Homo sapiens: one gene and its partner. The protein of the gene in region 1 purifies or fractionates together with the protein of each later gene. This does not show direct contact. Each region holds a gene or a part of one and is shown in the gene's direction. Other genes may lie near its edges.

The links. The genes of interacting proteins can lie anywhere in the genome.
Region 2: the proteins of CTCFL (region 1) and NES purify together in Homo sapiens (affinity purification with mass spectrometry; one large-scale study listed by BioGRID and IntAct). This does not show direct contact.

The regions. Positions count from the first base shown.
Region 1 is NC_000020.11:57,507,959-57,511,805, reverse strand, and holds part of CTCFL (transcriptional repressor CTCFL), read left to right. Parts: intron 1-3,017; coding exon 3,018-3,200; intron 3,201-3,847. UniProt on the Homo sapiens protein: Testis-specific DNA binding protein responsible for insulator function, nuclear architecture and transcriptional control, which probably acts by recruiting epigenetic chromatin modifiers.
Region 2 is NC_000001.11:156,668,263-156,671,335, reverse strand, and holds the end of NES (nestin), read left to right. Parts: coding exon 1-2,014; 3' UTR 2,015-2,573; downstream 2,574-3,073. UniProt on the Homo sapiens protein: Required for brain and eye development.

The DNA.
Region 1 (3,847 bases):
GCCTGGCCAATATGGTGAAACCCCGTTTCTATTAAAAAATACAAAAATTAGTTGGGCGTGGTGGCACACGCCTGTAGTCCCAGCTACTCAGGAGGCTGAGGCAGGAGAATTGCTTGAACCTGGGAGGCAGAGGTTGCAGTGAGCCGAGATCGCGCCACTGCACTCCAGCCTGGGAAACAGAGCAAAACTCCATCTCAAAAAAAAAAAAAGGGGGGGGATTAGAGTGATTTTTTTAAAGCAACTTTTATATTGTGTGATGAAATATGTCAGCATTTAGAAGATCTGCATAACTCAAGTGAACTAGTATTTTCCAAATGACCAATCCATGATGTTACAGACTCACACACAGGTAAAAGATCCATTCAAAGTAAAAGATAGACCAAGAGGTTATAATGTCGCAGAGGAGCACAAGTTCTTTGGCACGGTTTCAGATTCCACATTGCAACCCATGGTAAGAAATTACCATGGCCAGACACACTGGCTCACACCTATAGTCCCAACACTTTGGGAGGCCGAGATGGACAGAACTGTTGAGCTCAGGAATTCAAGACCAACCTGGGCAACATAATGAGACCCTGTCTCTACAAAAAAATACAAAAATTAGCTGTGGGTGGTGGTGCATATCTGTCCCAGCTACTCAGGAGGCTAAGGTTGGAGGATCACTTAAGCCCAGGAGGTTGAGGCTGCAGTAGGCTGTGTTCATACCACTGCACTCCAGCACGGACAACTGAGTGAGACCCTAAAAAAAGAAATTACTACTAACTGAATTTTAGTGTAATAGCAGAGAAGAATGCCCACAGTTATTTGGAAGAGCTAGTAAAATGTTGCTCTCTTTTCAAACTACATGTCTGTGAGACCAAATTTTCTTTATCACTTAACATACTCCAGTGGACTGAGGGAAGAGCAGAGATAGGAATCCATCTGAATTCTTTTTTTATTTTTTTATTTTTTAGACGGAGTCTCACTCTGTTGCCCAGGCTAGAGTGCAGTGGCGCTATCACTGCAAACTCCACCTCCTGGGTTCACGCCATTCTCCTGCCTCAGCCTCCTGAGTAGCTGGGACTACAGGCGGCCCCCACCACGCCTGGCTTATTTTTTGTATTTTTAGTAGAGATGGGGTTTCACCATGTTAGCCAGGATGGTCTCGATCTCCTGACCTCGTGATCTGCCCGCCTCGGCCTCCCAAAGTGCTGGGATTATAGGCGTGAGCCACCGCGCCTGGCCCCGAATGCTTTTAATAGAGCTGTCAGACTTAGCAAATAAAAATACAGCACACTTAGTGACATTTGAACTTCAGACAACAACAAATAGTTTTATATACAAGTAGTTGCAGCCTGTATTTTAACTGGAAACCTTATCTATTAAGACAGACATTAGGTTATTTTTGTTTTGAAAAATAGATAATTTTACAGAAATAATATGTAGTTGGTTTGTTTTTATTTTTAAATGAGTTAATAAATTGTTTTATTTTAAAAAACACTTAAGAATTCCCCAGGTTTGCTTTCTAAGAAAGTAAATACTAATACATGCCACCTGTATACATAAAAGCTCTTCAGAGGCCACAGTAATTTTTTAAAGTATAAAAGGCCCTCAGAGTAGAAGTTTGAAAACCAAAACACTGCTTCAAAGTATTGCATGCTATTGGTTACCAAAGGTGAAAATCAGTGCTTACTGTGTGTTTTGAAGTGTGGGCTGTAAACTGTAAATGCTTTGAATAAGGGAAAAGGAGTTTTTCTGGTAGATTTTGAACAAAGAATATTCTGAGGCCTCAGGCTCATACTTATTCAAATGAACTAGGAGGGCTTCCTGAAAGATGGATAGGACTTGGAAAGGATGAGGGGCCCTGGAGCAGGCATACAGCAGGTATGTGGGAGTAGAGAGCAGCCAGGCAGGTCATGGCCGTGGGCAGAGGCTTGGAGCACTGCTGGGTGCTCCTGGCTGCCGCGGTCCTGGAGAGTCAGGCTCCCAGCAGGGAGCGCCAGAGATGCTGTCCCAAAGGAGGGTGATGAGGTGAAAGCTGTGCATGGAAGAGGGTGTTTAGTGAATTGGGTGAGAGAAAGATTAGAAGAAAGAGCATCAGTTAGGCCACTGACAGTAATGCAGAAATGGCCGAATATATATTTAATCCAAATAATCATCACATTTTAAATAAAACAAAATGTGTACTTTTGCTTGACTTCATACATATTTTTTTCCTGATTTCCCAAATTATTTTCTCCTGTCTAAGATAAAATCTCTATTTAGGCCAGGTACAGTGGCTCACACCTATAATCCCAGCACTTTGGGAGGCTAAGGCAGGAGAATTGCTTGAGGCTAGGAGTTTGAGACCAGCCTGGGCAACATAGTGAGACCCTGTCTCTACAAAAAATACAAACTGAGCCGAGCATAGTGGCATGCGTCCACAGTCCCAGCTACTCAGGAGGCTGAGGCAGGAGGATCACTTGGGCCCAGGAGTTTGAGATTGCAGTGAGCTATGATTGTGACAGAGCGAGACCCTGTCTCAAAAAAAAAAAAAAAAAAATCGGTATTAAGATCTGTTACGATACTATTGGGAAGTAAATGGAAAAATGTTGATACTTAAGGTACTTGCAACCCCAAAGGTCTGCTGAATTTAAACTCTGACATTTGATTTTTAAGTTTGCAGGTTCTATTTGCCCTTTGTAAATTCAGGTAATTGTAAATAGTTGTATAGAAGGAGGACTCCCAGTAATGAGAGGACAAAGGACCATCCTTTCACGCCCTGCGGTGTGTACTCCCACATCCCAACAGGACAGGAGAGCCAGCAAGGAATCCACTGCAAGACCTTTGTCACTTGCTGCTGCATACGAGTTTTGTTTCCTAGGCGGCCACTTACTGAGAGTGAATGCTGCCTTGTTCAGAATGTGTTTGCAGTAATTCTGCTTAATAGTGGACTCATCTTTGGGGAGGGAAATAAAAGGTATTGTATGATAAACAGTGTCTAATATCGAGAAAACCCTTTGAACTAGACAAGCTGCTTTCTTCCCCTTCCCTCTTAGGAACGTCATATGACCGCTCACATTCGTACCCACACTGGAGAGAAACCATTCACCTGCCTTTCTTGCAATAAATGTTTCCGACAGAAGCAACTTCTAAACGCTCACTTCAGGAAATACCACGATGCAAATTTCATCCCGACTGTTTACAAATGCTCCAAGTGTGGCAAAGGCTTTTCCCGCTGGGTAAGCTTACTTAAGTCACAGTAAATCCCCCATGGAAAGATCCCTCTATCTCAGGAGGACAGTGTCACACCAGGAGAGTTTAAACCCGATTATAGAAACCTGCCAGGACTTCAGGAGCATCTGTCATGCCTTAGGAAAGTGGTTATTAGTTTTTTAAAATCACAAAATTCTTGAAGAATCCTATGAAAGTGTGGTCTCCTCATCCCCTAAAAAAAAAAAAAAGGACAATCCAACACACAAAATCTTACAATAGGGAGTTATCAGACTCCCCAAAGAACCCCACCTTTTAGTGTAATATTTTCAAACAGTGAACTAGATTTAGGCTACTTGACAGAGAGAATGCAGTTTTCACACATTTTTTCAGATGTCCCTAGAATAATGTTATTGGTGTCTATAATCCCAGCTACTTGAGAGGCCAAGGTGGGAGGATTACTTGAGGCCAGGAGTTTGAGATCAGCCTGGGCAACACAGGGAGACCCCCATCCCTCCAAAAAAATTAGCTGGTTGTGGTGGTGCACCCCTGTAGGCCTAGCTGCTCAGGAGGCTGAGACAGGAGGACCACTTGAGCCCAGGAGTTGGAGGCTACAGTGAGTCACGATCGCACCACTGCACTCTGGCCTCAAAGACAGAGTGAGACCCTGTCTCTA
Region 2 (3,073 bases), on another chromosome or scaffold:
GGAAGATACGGTGGAGAAGGACCAAGAACTGGCTCAGGAAAGCCCTCCTGGGATGGCTGGAGTGGAAAATGAGGATGAGGCAGAGCTGAATCTGAGGGAGCAGGATGGCTTCACTGGGAAGGAGGAGGTGGTAGAGCAGGGAGAGCTGAATGCCACAGAGGAGGTCTGGATCCCAGGCGAGGGGCACCCAGAGAGCCCTGAGCCCAAAGAGCAGAGAGGCCTGGTTGAGGGAGCCAGTGTGAAGGGAGGGGCTGAGGGCCTCCAGGACCCTGAAGGGCAATCACAACAGGTGGGGGCCCCAGGCCTCCAGGCTCCCCAGGGGCTGCCAGAGGCGATAGAGCCCCTGGTGGAAGATGATGTGGCCCCAGGGGGTGACCAAGCCTCCCCAGAGGTCATGTTGGGGTCAGAGCCTGCCATGGGTGAGTCTGCTGCGGGAGCTGAGCCAGGCCCGGGGCAGGGGGTGGGAGGGCTGGGGGACCCAGGCCATCTGACCAGGGAAGAGGTGATGGAACCACCCCTGGAAGAGGAGAGTTTGGAGGCAAAGAGGGTTCAGGGCTTGGAAGGGCCTAGAAAGGACCTAGAGGAGGCAGGTGGTCTGGGGACAGAGTTCTCCGAGCTGCCTGGGAAGAGCAGAGACCCTTGGGAGCCTCCCAGGGAGGGTAGGGAGGAGTCAGAGGCTGAGGCCCCCAGGGGAGCAGAGGAGGCGTTCCCTGCTGAGACCCTGGGCCACACTGGAAGTGATGCCCCTTCACCTTGGCCTCTGGGGTCAGAGGAAGCTGAGGAGGATGTACCACCAGTGCTGGTCTCCCCCAGCCCAACGTACACCCCGATCCTGGAAGATGCCCCTGGGCCTCAGCCTCAGGCTGAAGGGAGTCAGGAGGCTAGCTGGGGGGTGCAGGGGAGGGCTGAAGCCCTGGGGAAAGTAGAGAGCGAGCAGGAGGAGTTGGGTTCTGGGGAGATCCCCGAGGGCCCCCAGGAGGAAGGGGAGGAGAGCAGAGAAGAGAGCGAGGAGGATGAGCTCGGGGAGACCCTTCCAGACTCCACTCCCCTGGGCTTCTACCTCAGGTCCCCCACCTCCCCCAGGTGGGACCCCACTGGAGAGCAGAGGCCACCCCCTCAAGGGGAGACTGGAAAGGAGGGCTGGGATCCTGCTGTCCTGGCTTCCGAGGGCCTTGAGGCCCCACCCTCAGAAAAGGAGGAGGGGGAGGAGGGAGAAGAGGAGTGTGGCCGTGACTCTGACCTGTCAGAAGAATTTGAGGACCTGGGGACTGAGGCACCTTTTCTTCCTGGGGTCCCTGGGGAGGTGGCAGAACCTCTGGGCCAGGTGCCCCAGCTGCTACTGGATCCTGCAGCCTGGGATCGAGATGGGGAGTCCGATGGGTTTGCAGATGAGGAAGAAAGTGGGGAGGAGGGAGAGGAGGATCAGGAGGAGGGGAGGGAGCCAGGGGCTGGGCGGTGGGGGCCAGGGTCTTCTGTTGGCAGCCTCCAGGCCCTGAGTAGCTCCCAGAGAGGGGAATTCCTGGAGTCTGATTCTGTGAGTGTCAGTGTCCCCTGGGATGACAGCTTGAGGGGTGCAGTGGCTGGTGCCCCCAAGACTGCCCTGGAAACGGAGTCCCAGGACAGTGCTGAGCCTTCTGGCTCAGAGGAAGAGTCTGACCCTGTTTCCTTGGAGAGGGAGGACAAAGTCCCTGGCCCTCTAGAGATCCCCAGTGGGATGGAGGATGCAGGCCCAGGGGCAGACATCATTGGTGTTAATGGCCAGGGTCCCAACTTGGAGGGGAAGTCACAGCATGTGAATGGGGGAGTGATGAACGGGCTGGAGCAGTCTGAGGAAGTGGGGCAAGGAATGCCGCTAGTCTCTGAGGGAGACCGAGGGAGCCCCTTTCAGGAGGAGGAGGGGAGTGCTCTGAAGACCTCTTGGGCAGGGGCTCCTGTTCACCTGGGCCAGGGTCAGTTCCTGAAGTTCACTCAGAGGGAAGGAGATAGAGAGTCCTGGTCCTCAGGGGAGGACTAGGAAAAGACCATCTGCCCGGCACTGGGGACTTAGGGGTGCGGGGAGGGGAAGGACGCCTCCAAGCCCGCTCCCTGCTCAGGAGCAGCACTCTTAACTTACGATCTCTTGACATATGGTTTCTGGCTGAGAGGCCTGGCCCGCTAAGGTGAAAAGGGGTGTGGCAAAGGAGCCTACTCCAAGAATGGAGGCTGTAGGAATATAACCTCCCACCCTGCAAAGGGAATCTCTTGCCTGCTCCATCTCATAGGCTAAGTCAGCTGAATCCCGATAGTACTAGGTCCCCTTCCCTCCGCATCCCGTCAGCTGGAAAAGGCCTGTGGCCCAGAGGCTTCTCCAAAGGGAGGGTGACATGCTGGCTTTTGTGCCCAAGCTCACCAGCCCTGCGCCACCTCACTGCAGTAGTGCACCATCTCACTGCAGTAGCACGCCCTCCTGGGCCGTCTGGCCTGTGGCTAATGGAGGTGACGGCACTCCCATGTGCTGACTCCCCCCATCCCTGCCACGCTGTGGCCCTGCCTGGCTAGTCCCTGCCTGAATAAAGTAATGCCTCCGCTTCAAAGTCTGGACTCTTCTTTCCCCCACTCAGAGGGGACCCTCAGGGTTAGTACAGGAGAGAGATGGCGGGGGCGGGCGGGGGGTGGCGGGGGAGAGGAGGAAGCTGGTGCTGGGGAGGGGCTGCCTCCTGAGGAGAGGAGGACCTGGGGGGATGAGGGCAGACAGACCCAAGCTGCAGGGAGCAGTGCTGGGGCCTGGGGAGGGCCAGGGGCTGTTGCTTGGCTGGGGGAGGCCAGTCCAGGTGACCTCAGCGCCTGCAGAAGCCAGGCCCATCATCATCTCTGCCCACAGTACTGATTACAGGGATTAGGCCTTGGGGCCACCCCCACCCTTGTATACCCCCCCCCATTAGTGCCTTGGTGCCGCCAGCATAATAAGCCCCCTTGTCTCTAAACCCAAACAAGTTGTCTGGCCTGATCTCCTCAGCCTGACTGGGTGGGAGCAGGGTGAGGGAAGAGGCAGGCCTGTTCTTCCTCAGTCTGGCTGCATGGCCTCAGGTCAGCA